Homo sapiens: one gene and its partners. The protein of the gene in region 3 purifies or fractionates together with the protein of the main gene of each other region. This does not show direct contact. Each region holds a gene or a part of one and is shown on either strand. Other genes may lie near its edges. The genes, in order: LRP6, LRP5 and RASD2.

Region 1 (3,651 bases), on a different chromosome or scaffold from region 3:
TGCTATTATTAAGATGGCCGAATTAAAAGAAACATTATACTCTGGAAAGACTGGTAAAACATTTTAAGTGTCGCTATGTCCTGGGCACTGTTTTTGGCAGTTGATAGTTTTAGGCCAGTGGTTTTGGAATTTTTTTTGATTCTTCTGCAACTGGAATAAAAGCTCCATAAAATACTTTTACTTATGGAAATTTCTGTTTTGTTTGATATAAAACGGAATGACACTAAATTTTTTTTCTTTTTTTTTTTTTTGAGACGGAGTCTTGCTCAGTCGCCCAGGCTGGAGTGCAGTGGCGTAATCTCGGCTCACTGCAAGCTCCGCCCCCCGGGTTCACGCCATTCTCCTGCCTCAGCCTCCCGAGTAGCTGGGACTGCAGGCCCCGCCAACACGCCCGGCTAATTTTTTTTGTATTTTAGTGGAGACGGGGTTTCACCATGTTAGCCAGGTTGGTCTCCATCTCCTGACCTGGTGATCCAGCCGCCTCGGCCTCCCAAAGTGCTGGGATTACAGGCGTGAACCACCGCGCCTGGCCTAAATTTATTTCTAAAGGATTGCAGCCATAACTATTTTAGGTGATGATTATTATAAATAAGCTACAGAACAGACAGTTCAAATGATTGTGATACTTATTAAAGAGTTAAGCATGGGCAAAATAATTTTATCAAGACATCTAATTGAGAAATTGCATTATTTGTTTACAACAATTATTCAGTTGGTGGATTTCTTTCTGCAGGATGGCTGAATGCTATACTGAGTTTCTGCATTGCATGTTTTCACTTCGGATAAGGGTGTTTATCTTCTATAAAGTAAGCCTCACTTCAGTGAATAAAACACTGTTTTATATGAGTAACTTTGAAATTTAGTCAAATATACAGACTAGGCAATCTAAGAACAGGCTGTTTGCTCTTAAAATTATTTATTTTAAAATACAATTTGTCAGTACATAAATGCAAGGAAACAAGGTTATTTGGTATTATTAACATATGCTTTTGTTTCTCAAGCTGTTCGTGTTTGCGGCAGTGAGTATTCTCACTAAAGGTTCAAGCTGTTCGGGTGTGAGGCTAGAAACTTTTAAAATGTGCTTGGACTCTTCGGTGAAAATTATTGATACTTTGATGCTGTGATCCTTTTAGCGGTATCATAACTTGTAGTTTCTGTAATATCTTGCTTGGAAGGACCTTGTATAAGTGCTTAAATATTTTGGAACTAATTTCAGGAGGAGATTGGGGATGCAAAATGAAATTATATTTTTAGGCAGAAAACTACATTAAGTTATGTAAGTTATTAACACCAGGCCTAAAGTTATTGATGAGACTCTCAATAAAAATAACATGACCAGCAGTAGTCTTTTTTTTTTTTTTTTTTTGAGATGGAGTCTCGCTCTGTCACCCAGGCTGGAGTGCCGTGCCATGATCTTGGCTCACTGTGACATCTGCCTCCTGGGTTCAAGTGATTCTCCTGTCTCAGCCTCCCAAGTAGCTGGGATTAGTAGGCGCCCACTATCATGCCTACCTAATTTTTGTGTTTTTAGTAGAGATGGGGTTTCACCATGTTGGCCAGGCTGGTCTCGAACTCCTGACCTCAGGTGGTCCACCCGCTTTGGCCTTCCAAAGTGCTGGGCTTACAGGCGTGAGCCTGCTGCACACAGCTGTCATTTTTTTTTTCCCAAGAAAATAGTCACCCAAATATTGGAAACCTACCTTTATCAAATTATGTATGTTTAACCAGGAGGCTATTTTCTCTAATGGTCTTAGTCATTGTTTTATCACTACAAGACCCAAACTACAAGTAAAGGACTGCAAGGGATAGGAGTCTTCCTCACTAATGATTAGCTTTATTGGTACGTATAATTTAAGTACTGTATATCCATATATCCAGTTTAAAGATACTATGTTTTGCAAGTCTGAGAAAGGTGACGAGTGAACTTCATTACCATGAATTCTTAGCTACACATTATATTGTCTTTATTTGTAACCTTCTAGATTTATGCTAATGCAGAAATAGCTCTTTGATGAAAAGTTTTTGAAGAGTAGACCTTTTTCCCCTTTATATGCACCATGTACCAGAGGTTTGCACATATTGAGCACTGTAAATTTTACATTTAAAGTAATATAAAAAGATGTGAATTTTTATGACATTTATTTGGAATGCCATTTTGTGTTTTGACTCAATCGTTCATTAGCTATAGTTAAATTATAAATTTGTAACGATTACAAAGATTTCTTAGTCTGGGTCATGGTGGCTCACACCTGTAATCCCATCTCTTTAGGAGGCCAAGGCGAGAGGATCACTTGAGGTCAGGAGTTCAAGACCAGCCTGGGAAACATCTATAAAAAATTAAAAAATTATCTGGTCACGATGGCACATGCCTGTAGTTTCAGCTGCTTAGAAGGCTGAGGCAGGAGGATCACTTGAGCCCAGGAACTCAAGGCTACAGTGAGCCATGATCATGCCACTGCACTCCATATCACAGACAAAACCCTGTCTTTCAAAATAAATAAATAAAGATTTCTTAGCATAGATTAGATATGTTAAATAGACTACTAAAAAATCAGCATATTCATATCTGAGATTGAATTCAAGGTGTGGACTATGTAACGTGTTTTCTGGTTTTAGGATATAACTATTGCACTGATATAATTAGTTTTTTTTTTTTTTTTGAGACAGGGTCTCACTGTGTTTCCTAGGCTGGAGTGTGGTGTGATGCTATCATGGCTCACTGCAGCCTGGACCTCCTGGTCTCAGGCGATCCTCCTGCCTCAGCTTCCAGAGTAGCTGGGACTATAGGCACGTGCTACCACGCCCGGCTCATTTTTAATTTTTTTTTTTTTTTTTTTTTTTTTTTTTTTGTAGAGACAGGGTCTTACTATGTTGCTCAGACTGGTCTCGAATTCCTGGGCTCAAGTGATCCTCCTGCCTTGGTTTCCCAAAGTGCTTGCGATTACAGGCATGAGCCACCATGCCTGGCCTCAAGTACTTTTTTCTTTCTTTCTTTTTTTTTTTTCATTAAGCCCTTTCTATCAAGTACTTTTTTTTTTTTTTTTCCTTGAGAGGGAGTCTTGCTCTGTCGCCCAGGCTGGAGTGCAGTGGCGTGATCTCGGCTCACTGCAAGCTCCGCCTCCCAGATTCATGCCATTCTCCCGCCTCAGCTTCCCAAGTAGCTGGGACTACAGGCGCCCACCACCACGCCCAGCTAATTTTTTTTGTATTTTTTTAGTAGAGACGGGGTTTTACCGTGTTAGCCAGGATGGTCTGATCTCCTGACCTCGTGATCCACCCGCCTCGGCCTCCCAAAGTGCTGGGATTACAGGCGTGAGCCACCGCACCCGGCCTGTCAAGTACTTTTTTAAACCAAGTTTTTTGGAGCTATAATTCACATACAGTAAAAATCTCCATTTTACAATGTCTAGTTCGGTGGCTTTTAGTATACTCACAGGGTTGTAAAACATCACCACTATCTCATTCCAGAACGCTTATCATCCCCTGCTCCCTCAAAACCCATACATTTCCCATTTCTCCCTTCCCTCAGCCTCTGGTAACCATGAATTTACTTTCTGTCTCTATGGATTTGCTTACTCTGAATATTTCATATAAATGGAATAAAATATGTGGCCTTTTGTGTCTAGCTTCTATCACTTAGCATTTTCAGGG
Region 2 (3,651 bases), on a different chromosome or scaffold from region 3:
CTTTGTTTAGGGACAAAGGGAACTGGTAACCAGAAGCCGAGAGTTTAAACACCCACTGCCCTTCTTCCCTGCTCCTGCTGCTGCAACCCAGCTTAACCAGCCAGGAGTGCTAGGAACCCAAGCAGGGCCCCCGAGCACACAGCAGGCAGCTCACGAATTCTCTTTTCCTGTTCTCCCTTGGGAGCTGGGAGGATCTTAATCAGGCAATAAGAGATGGCACTGAGCAGCCAGCTAATTTTTTAAATCACTTTATTGTTTAACCATATGACTCACCCACTTAAAAAAGGGTACAGTTCAGTGGGTTTTAGTGTATTCACAGATGTGTGCAACCCTCACCACAGTTAATTTTAGAACATTTTCCTGCCCCTAAAAGAAACTCTGCATGAAGCCAGCTGTTTTTAAATTAGCAAAGTTATTTTGCATCCTTTAAATATATGTTCATGGTACAAAATTCAAAAGATACAGAAGAGTCTGCAGTCCAAAGAGACTCCGCCCCCATGACGCCAAGCAGGACTCCCTGGGAGGCATGGCCTCCTGCAGTGTGTTTCTTCTATGTCCCCCCAGGGGTCATCTGTACATATGCAAGCATACAAGAGCGTGGACTTTGTTTTCCAAGCCAGAAGATAATTGTAGATTTATGTGCAGTTGTGAGAAAGAGCACAGACCCATTTATCCTCTGCCTGGTTTCCCCCAGTGCTGCCTGCCATCTTGCATGACTTCCATTCCTATCATAAGCAAGACACTGATAACGATTCTTTCACCTTATTCAGATTGACATAAGTGTTTTTTGTTTGTTCTTGAGACAAACTTCCTCTGTCACCCAGTGGGAGTGCAGTGGCACAATCACAGCTCACTGCAGCCTCAAACTCCTGGGCTCAAGCGATTCTCCTGCCTCAGTCCCCTCAAGTAGCTCAGATGGCAGGTGTGCACCATCATGCCAGGCTAATTTTTAAATTTTTTGTGGAGGTGAGGCCTCACTAAATTTCCTGGGCTAGTCTTGAACTCCTGAGCTAAAGTGATCCTCCTGCCTCAGCCTCCCAAAGTGGTAGGATTACAGGCATGAGCCACTGCGCCTGGGCTGACATATGTGTTTTCGTAAGCCCGAAAGATAGCATCTGAAGAGTCAACATTGAGCCTTGCCTTTTGCTGCTAACGATGTATAAAAGCTGCTGTTCTGAGCATTTCGGAGGCTCCCAGCTGCCGTGTGCACCCTGCCTAGAGCTCTACCGTAACCCATCTCCGGGAGGAGGTGCTATTGTTTTCCTCATTTTGCAACAAGGAGGCTGAAGAACTGAGCATGAACCACTGGCCTGGGTCGTTCGGTTGGTAGGCAGTGGGGCCAGGCCATCCAACTCACAACCACCTTCTACTCTGCTTCCCCCGCACCCTGAAGTTTGTTCTGTTTTGAGGACACAGCCGTCACATTCTTGGTGGCTGAACAGCACTCCTTGTCAGGCGTGGCTGGGCCCCCACTGGAGGGCATCATGGTCCTCTCTCCTGCTGCGGTTGAACCTTGGCTGTTTCAACCACTCCTGCCAAGTGGCCCTCTGAAAGGGACAGTCCATCTTTTCTCAGCAGAGGGCCACACTGGCAAAACGGTCCCTGGCACCCTTTCTCTCCACCTGTCTAATATAGAGTAAAAATGGTATCATGTTAAGATCTTCATTTATATTTATTTTATCATGAATGATGTAAGCATCATTTTGTGTGTTTAAGAACCTTTGGGCCCAGCGTGATGGCTTGCAGCTGTAATCTCAGCACTTTAGGAGGCTGAGATGAGCGGATCACTTGAGGCCGGGAGTTTGAGACCAGCCTGGCCAACATGGAGAAACCCCGTCTCTAGTAAAAATTTAAAAATTAGCCGGGTATGGTGATCCCAGCTACTTGGGAGTCTGAAGCATGAGAATTGCTTGAACATGGGAGGCGGAGGTTGCAGTGAGCCGAGATCGCGCCATTGCACTCCAGCCTGGGCGACAGAGCGAGACTCTGTCTCAAAAAAAAAAAAAAAAAAGAAAAGAAAAGAAATTATCAATCTCCTCTTTTATGGCATATATATATATATATATATATATATATATATATATATATATTTTTTTTTTTTTTGGTTATGTTCAGAAAGGCCTTCCCTGCTCTGATCATAAAAAACAACTTATTTTCACACTCTCTCTCTTTTTTTTTTGAGACAGAGTTTTGCTCCTGTTGCCCAGGCTGGAGTGCAGTGGCGCAATCTCAGCTCACTGTAACCTCCGCCTCCCGGGTTGGAGTGATTCTCCTGCCTTACCTTCCCGAGTAGCTGGGATTATAGGCATGCACCACCATGCCTGGCTAATTTTGTACTTTTAGTAGAGACGGGGGTTTCTCCATGTTGGTCAGGCTGGTCTCGAACTCGCGACCTCAGGTGATCCACCCACCTCGGCCTCCCAAAGTGCTGGGATTACAGACGTGAGCCACCATGCCCAGCCCACACTCTCTTTCTTAACGTCCTCCTCCTTTCGTTTTACGTTCACATCTTTAATTCTTCTGGGATGTAATTAGATTTGATGAGCAAGGTGGGCATCCAGCTTGTTTCTTGGCTGATGGCTTATGGGTGGCGTGAATTAGTCGGGGTCTATCAGGAGGCAGAAACTCTATGAGAATTTGAACAGAGAAAGTTCCGTCTACAGGCTTATTACCAGGGACTGGAATAGCAGAAATTGAACAGTGAGATGTACAGAGAACTCTAAGAATGCAGGAATAGGCCAGGCATGGTGGCTCACACCTGTCATCCCAGCACTTTGGGAGACCAAGGCGGGTGGATCACCTGAGGTCAGGAGTTCGAGACCAGCCTGGCCAACATAGTGAAACCCCATCTCTACTAAAAATACAAAAAAATTAGCTGGGTGTGGTGGCGCATGCCTGTAATCCCAGCTTCTCGGGAGTCTGAGGCTGGAGAATCACTTGAACCTGGGAGGCAGAGGTTGTAGTGAGCCGAGATCATGCCATTGTACTCCAGCCTGGGCAACAAGAGCGAGACTCAGTCAAAACAACAACAACGCAGGAATAGCAGATGAGCCGAGTGGCCTCCCCAGCCCCCACCCCCCACCCCCCACCCTGGGCCGAGATCCAGTCCTCTTTGAATAGGGCCTGGCCGTGGTTCACGGGACATCTGAGACATTGCCGAGGCGCTGCACTGGTGGATCTTGCCAGAAGTCTGCCCAGTGCAGATTTGGGCAGAATCTCAAACTGCCTTGGGATGTAGGAGAGAAACCAGGCCTGGTCAAGTTCATGGGAAGAGGTGGAAACAGACCCCATAGGCTGGGGCTTGGGCAGCTGTAGGAAGCCCTCTCTGCTGCCTCCCTGCCTGCTCTCTGCTTTGAAGCATCTTCCCCAGTGCCCCCAGTCTCATGCCCTCTCAACGTTGGGGTCAAATCCTGAGGAATACCCAGACTGGCTCTCTGGGCCAAAGAGGACCCTCTCCAGAAAGAGCAGGGCCCAGTGCGGCTTCCTAAAGGGCAGGGGAAGGGCCTGGCCACTCCCCAGAGGCTACTCACCAGCCATCAGGATAGCCCCAGGAAGCAGGCCTTCTCGAGCCCATTTTATTACTTTATTTTATTATTTTATTTAATTTTAAATTTATTTTTTGAGACAGAGTCTCACTCTGTTGCCCAGGCT
Region 3 (3,651 bases):
GGCTCAGAGAGGTTTTGCCATGTGCTGGAAATAGTGATGAAGTCGGGGGCCCCGATTCCATTCTGTTAGACTCCAGATCGATTACTCATGGCTGTCGGGGCCGCCTTCCAGATCAGGAGCTGATACCAGCATGCCCCAGGGATATTCCTTTCTAGGGAACAGAATGATGCCCTGGCTGCTGCTTTCCTTCTCCGGAAGATGACCCACCAGAGCTCCAGGGCCCAAGGTCAGTCCACGGGGCTCAGGTCTCCCACACCCCAGGCCTTTGCCACCTCCTAGAGAGGTAAGGGCAGGACCCAGGCAGTGATCACCAAAGGGAAGGGGGCTTGGTCATGGTCATAGTGATGGTGATGGCACTAGCTGACACTTATCAGAAGCTATGGGCCTGGCCCTGTTCTTAGAGCTTGGCATGTAGTTTTTTTTGAAACAGAGTCTCGCTCTGTCACCCAGGCTGGAGTGCAGTGGCGCGATCTCGGCTCACTGCAACCTCTGCCTCCCGGGTTCAAGCGATTCTCCTGCCTCAGTCCCCCAAGTAGCTGGGACTACAGGCATGTGCCACCATGCCCGGCTAATTTTTTGTATTTTTACTAGAGACGGGATTTCACCATGTTAGCCAGGATGGTCTCGATCTCCTGACCTCGTGATCTGCCTACCTCAGCCTCCCAAAGTGCTGAGATTACAGGCGTCAGCCACCGCGGCCAGCCAGCATGTAGTTATTTAACCCTCATAGTAAATAGTTATTCATTCCCTTTTTACAAGTGGGGAAACTGAAGCCCAGAGAGGTTAAGTAACTCACTCCAGTGGTAGCACAGCTCGTAAAGGCAGTCTGCTTTTGTGCTTTCAGACAAAGCCATACCACAGCCTCTCAGCCCTGCTGGGAAGGGTGAGGAGGGACAGGGAGGTTGGGGGGAAGAAGGGGTGAGTGGAGCTGAGGGGCTGTGCCCTTGTTTACACTGCATTAGCATGGTAGCTAAGAGGACAAGCCCGGGACCCAGCACCTGGGTGTGAGCCCTGGTTCCGCTGCTTCCTGGCTTTGTACCTCGAGGCAAGGGATTTTATCTCCTTGTGTCTCAGCACTCTCATCTGTAAGACTGCACCACATCAACACTCATCCTAAAGGGACTGTGAGACTTAAATGAATGAATATATGTAAGGCGCTTGGTGAGCAGATAGTAAATGCACAATAAATCCCCAAGTCTTCTGTTGAGTCAGCATTTGCAAGTGGGCCTGCTACGGGTTACACGATCATTTCCCAAGTCACGCCCCTGAAGTTGCTGAGCAGGGATAAGGGAAGGAGTGAGCAGGCAACTCTCTAGGCATCATTCAGATAACCCCCCAACTGAGGTACTTCTATACAGAGAAACCCATGCCACTCCCAGCCCTGCTGCCGCCTTGAGGCCAAGACTGAGGCTGCGGGGTGGCCCCTCCTTGAGTGCTTTCTCTTCCAGGCTGGCTTTTCCGAGCATCTGACCCAGACAGCAGTCAAGTTCTCCGCTCCACCCCGAGTTTTGGAGAAGGGGCATGTAGATAGGAGAGCCCTGGGTCGACCTGTGTTCGAATCCTTGCTGGGCCTCTTGGCTTAAATGTGTGACCAGAGGCACATGCATCCTGTCTGAGTCTCAGCCTCCCCAGCCACACAGTGGGCTTAACCTCATACCCCGCAGGGAGGCTGTGAGGACTGCAAGAAGGCTTGTGGCGGGAGCTTCCAGCACGTGACGGGTATTGCATTGGTGTCAGCTCCCCCAGCCTTGGGGAGGGGACTGGGTACCCGCTGCAATGAATAAGGCTAATGACAGAGGGAAGGAGAGGGGAGATGTAGAGAGGAAGCACATGCATATTTTCAGCATTAATTTTCAGTGACACAAGTAATACCCAAACACACCCTCCTGCAAACGCTACAGATAAAGCTAATGCCCCTTTGACCCATGTCCCCAATCCCAGGCTCCTGCCCCTGCCCCGGAGGTGGCCACCCTGGCAGTCTGGCATGGAGCCTTCCGGGCCTCCGTGACTACACCGGCATTCGTATTTGTATCCCCACAATGGAGAGTATTTTTGTCTGTCTCTTTTTTATGGCGCATATCATTCTGAGCACAGCTGTCTGATGCTTGTTTTTTTTTCACACACCAACCCGTGCCTCATTTTCCAACCTGGTGGAACCTCATTTTTTCAACCTCATTTTCCTGCTGCTCAGGAAATTCTGAAAGCCATTAATTCCACTGCCAGCTCTTCTTCCAGCTGCCAGACGGGCCGATCTCTGATGCTTGGCATCGCAGTCTCGCATTTGAATATGTCAAGGCCACGAGTCCTCAGGGGCCCCGGATTAGCCTAACGGGATGGGGTTTGGCAGCCCAAGCAGGAAGAGTTGCCAAGCTGACGCTGCCTCGCAAGTGCCTTTCAGAAGAGCCCACACTGCAGTTCCCTCCATCACCTCCCATCCATTCAGGCTTCCTTGGTTAACACTGACTGTGTGCCAGGCCCTGGGGAGACCAGGACGAGTGGGTGATGGAACCCTTCTCTGTGCCCGAGCTGTTTGGAGCACACCTTTGATCTGGACACCATTCTGAATGTGCCATGTGCCATTAAATGGGGGTAAATGATGTGCTCTGGGGGTGCAGAGGAAGGTGGCAGCCATTCTGCCAGAAGCTGGAACTGGTTGCTTCTCTTCTCAAGAATTTGGGCCAATTGCTGATTCCTCTGGGCCTCAGTTTCCTCATCTGTGAGACAGGGATCTTGTCACACCACAAGGCTATCAAGAGTTTGAGCAAAAGTGGTTGGACGCAGTGGCTCATGCCTGTAATCCCAGCTCTTTGGGAGGCCGAGGTGGGCAGATCTCTTGAGGTCAGGAGTTCAAGACCAGCCTGGCTAACACAGTGAAACACCGTCTCTACTAAAAAATACAAAAAATTAGCCAGGTGTGGTGATGGGCACCTGTAATCCCAGTTACTCGGGAGGCTGAGGCAGGAGAATCTCTTGAACCCAGGAGGTGGAGGTTGCAGTGAGCTGAGATCTTGCCATTGCATTCCAGGCTGGGCAACAAGAGTGAAACTCTGTCTCAGAAAATAAATAAATAAATAAATAAAAAATAGCTAGGCATGGTGACAGGCGCCTGTAATCCCAGCTGCTCCAGAGGCTGAGGCAGGAGAATCGCTTAAACCCAGGAGGTGGAAGTTGCAGTGAGCCAAGATCACACCACTGCACTCCAGCCTGGGCCACAGAGAAAGACTCCATCTCAAAAAAAAAAAAAAAAAAAAAAAAGTTTAAGCAAAAGTGAGGAAGGTGCTTATTAAAAGCTGGAAATCAGGATGGAGGTACCAGTCCAGACAGCCTCCCCACCACCCCACCGTCTCCACAGCAGCCCCTGTTTCAGATTCACAAGCCTGCCTTGAGTGATGCAGTGAGTTATCCTGGAGGCAGTGTGGGCCTTGGAGGCCAGCACTCACTTTTTCATCCTATGATTTATTTGAGAAGCAGAGAGCACCTACCGGGTGCCAGGCACGAGCTAGGTGAGAACAGAATCAGGTAGAAATCTCAGCCTAGCCACACGGAAGCTGTGTGATCTTGGGCAGGCTGCATACCCTTTCTGAGCCTCAGTTTGCTCACCTGTAATGCAAAGGTAACAAAATCTTGACAGAGGCATAGTGAGGAATCAAG

What was found.
Region 1: the proteins of RASD2 (region 3) and LRP6 purify together in Homo sapiens (affinity purification with mass spectrometry; 3 studies listed by BioGRID and IntAct, with this or other methods). This does not show direct contact.
Region 2: the proteins of RASD2 (region 3) and LRP5 purify together in Homo sapiens (affinity purification with mass spectrometry; 3 studies listed by BioGRID and IntAct, with this or other methods). This does not show direct contact.

Annotation. Positions count from the first base shown.
Region 1 is NC_000012.12:12,256,978-12,260,628, reverse strand, and holds part of LRP6 (low-density lipoprotein receptor-related protein 6 isoform b precursor), read left to right. Parts: intron 1-3,651. UniProt on the Homo sapiens protein: Component of the Wnt-Fzd-LRP5-LRP6 complex that triggers beta-catenin signaling through inducing aggregation of receptor-ligand complexes into ribosome-sized signalosomes.
Region 2 is NC_000011.10:68,441,497-68,445,147, forward strand, and holds part of LRP5 (low-density lipoprotein receptor-related protein 5 isoform 1 precursor), read left to right. Parts: intron 1-3,651. UniProt on the Homo sapiens protein: Acts as a coreceptor with members of the frizzled family of seven-transmembrane spanning receptors to transduce signal by Wnt proteins.
Region 3 is NC_000022.11:35,547,210-35,550,860, forward strand, and holds part of RASD2 (GTP-binding protein Rhes precursor), read left to right. Parts: intron 1-3,651. UniProt on the Homo sapiens protein: GTPase signaling protein that binds to and hydrolyzes GTP. Regulates signaling pathways involving G-proteins-coupled receptor and heterotrimeric proteins such as GNB1, GNB2 and GNB3.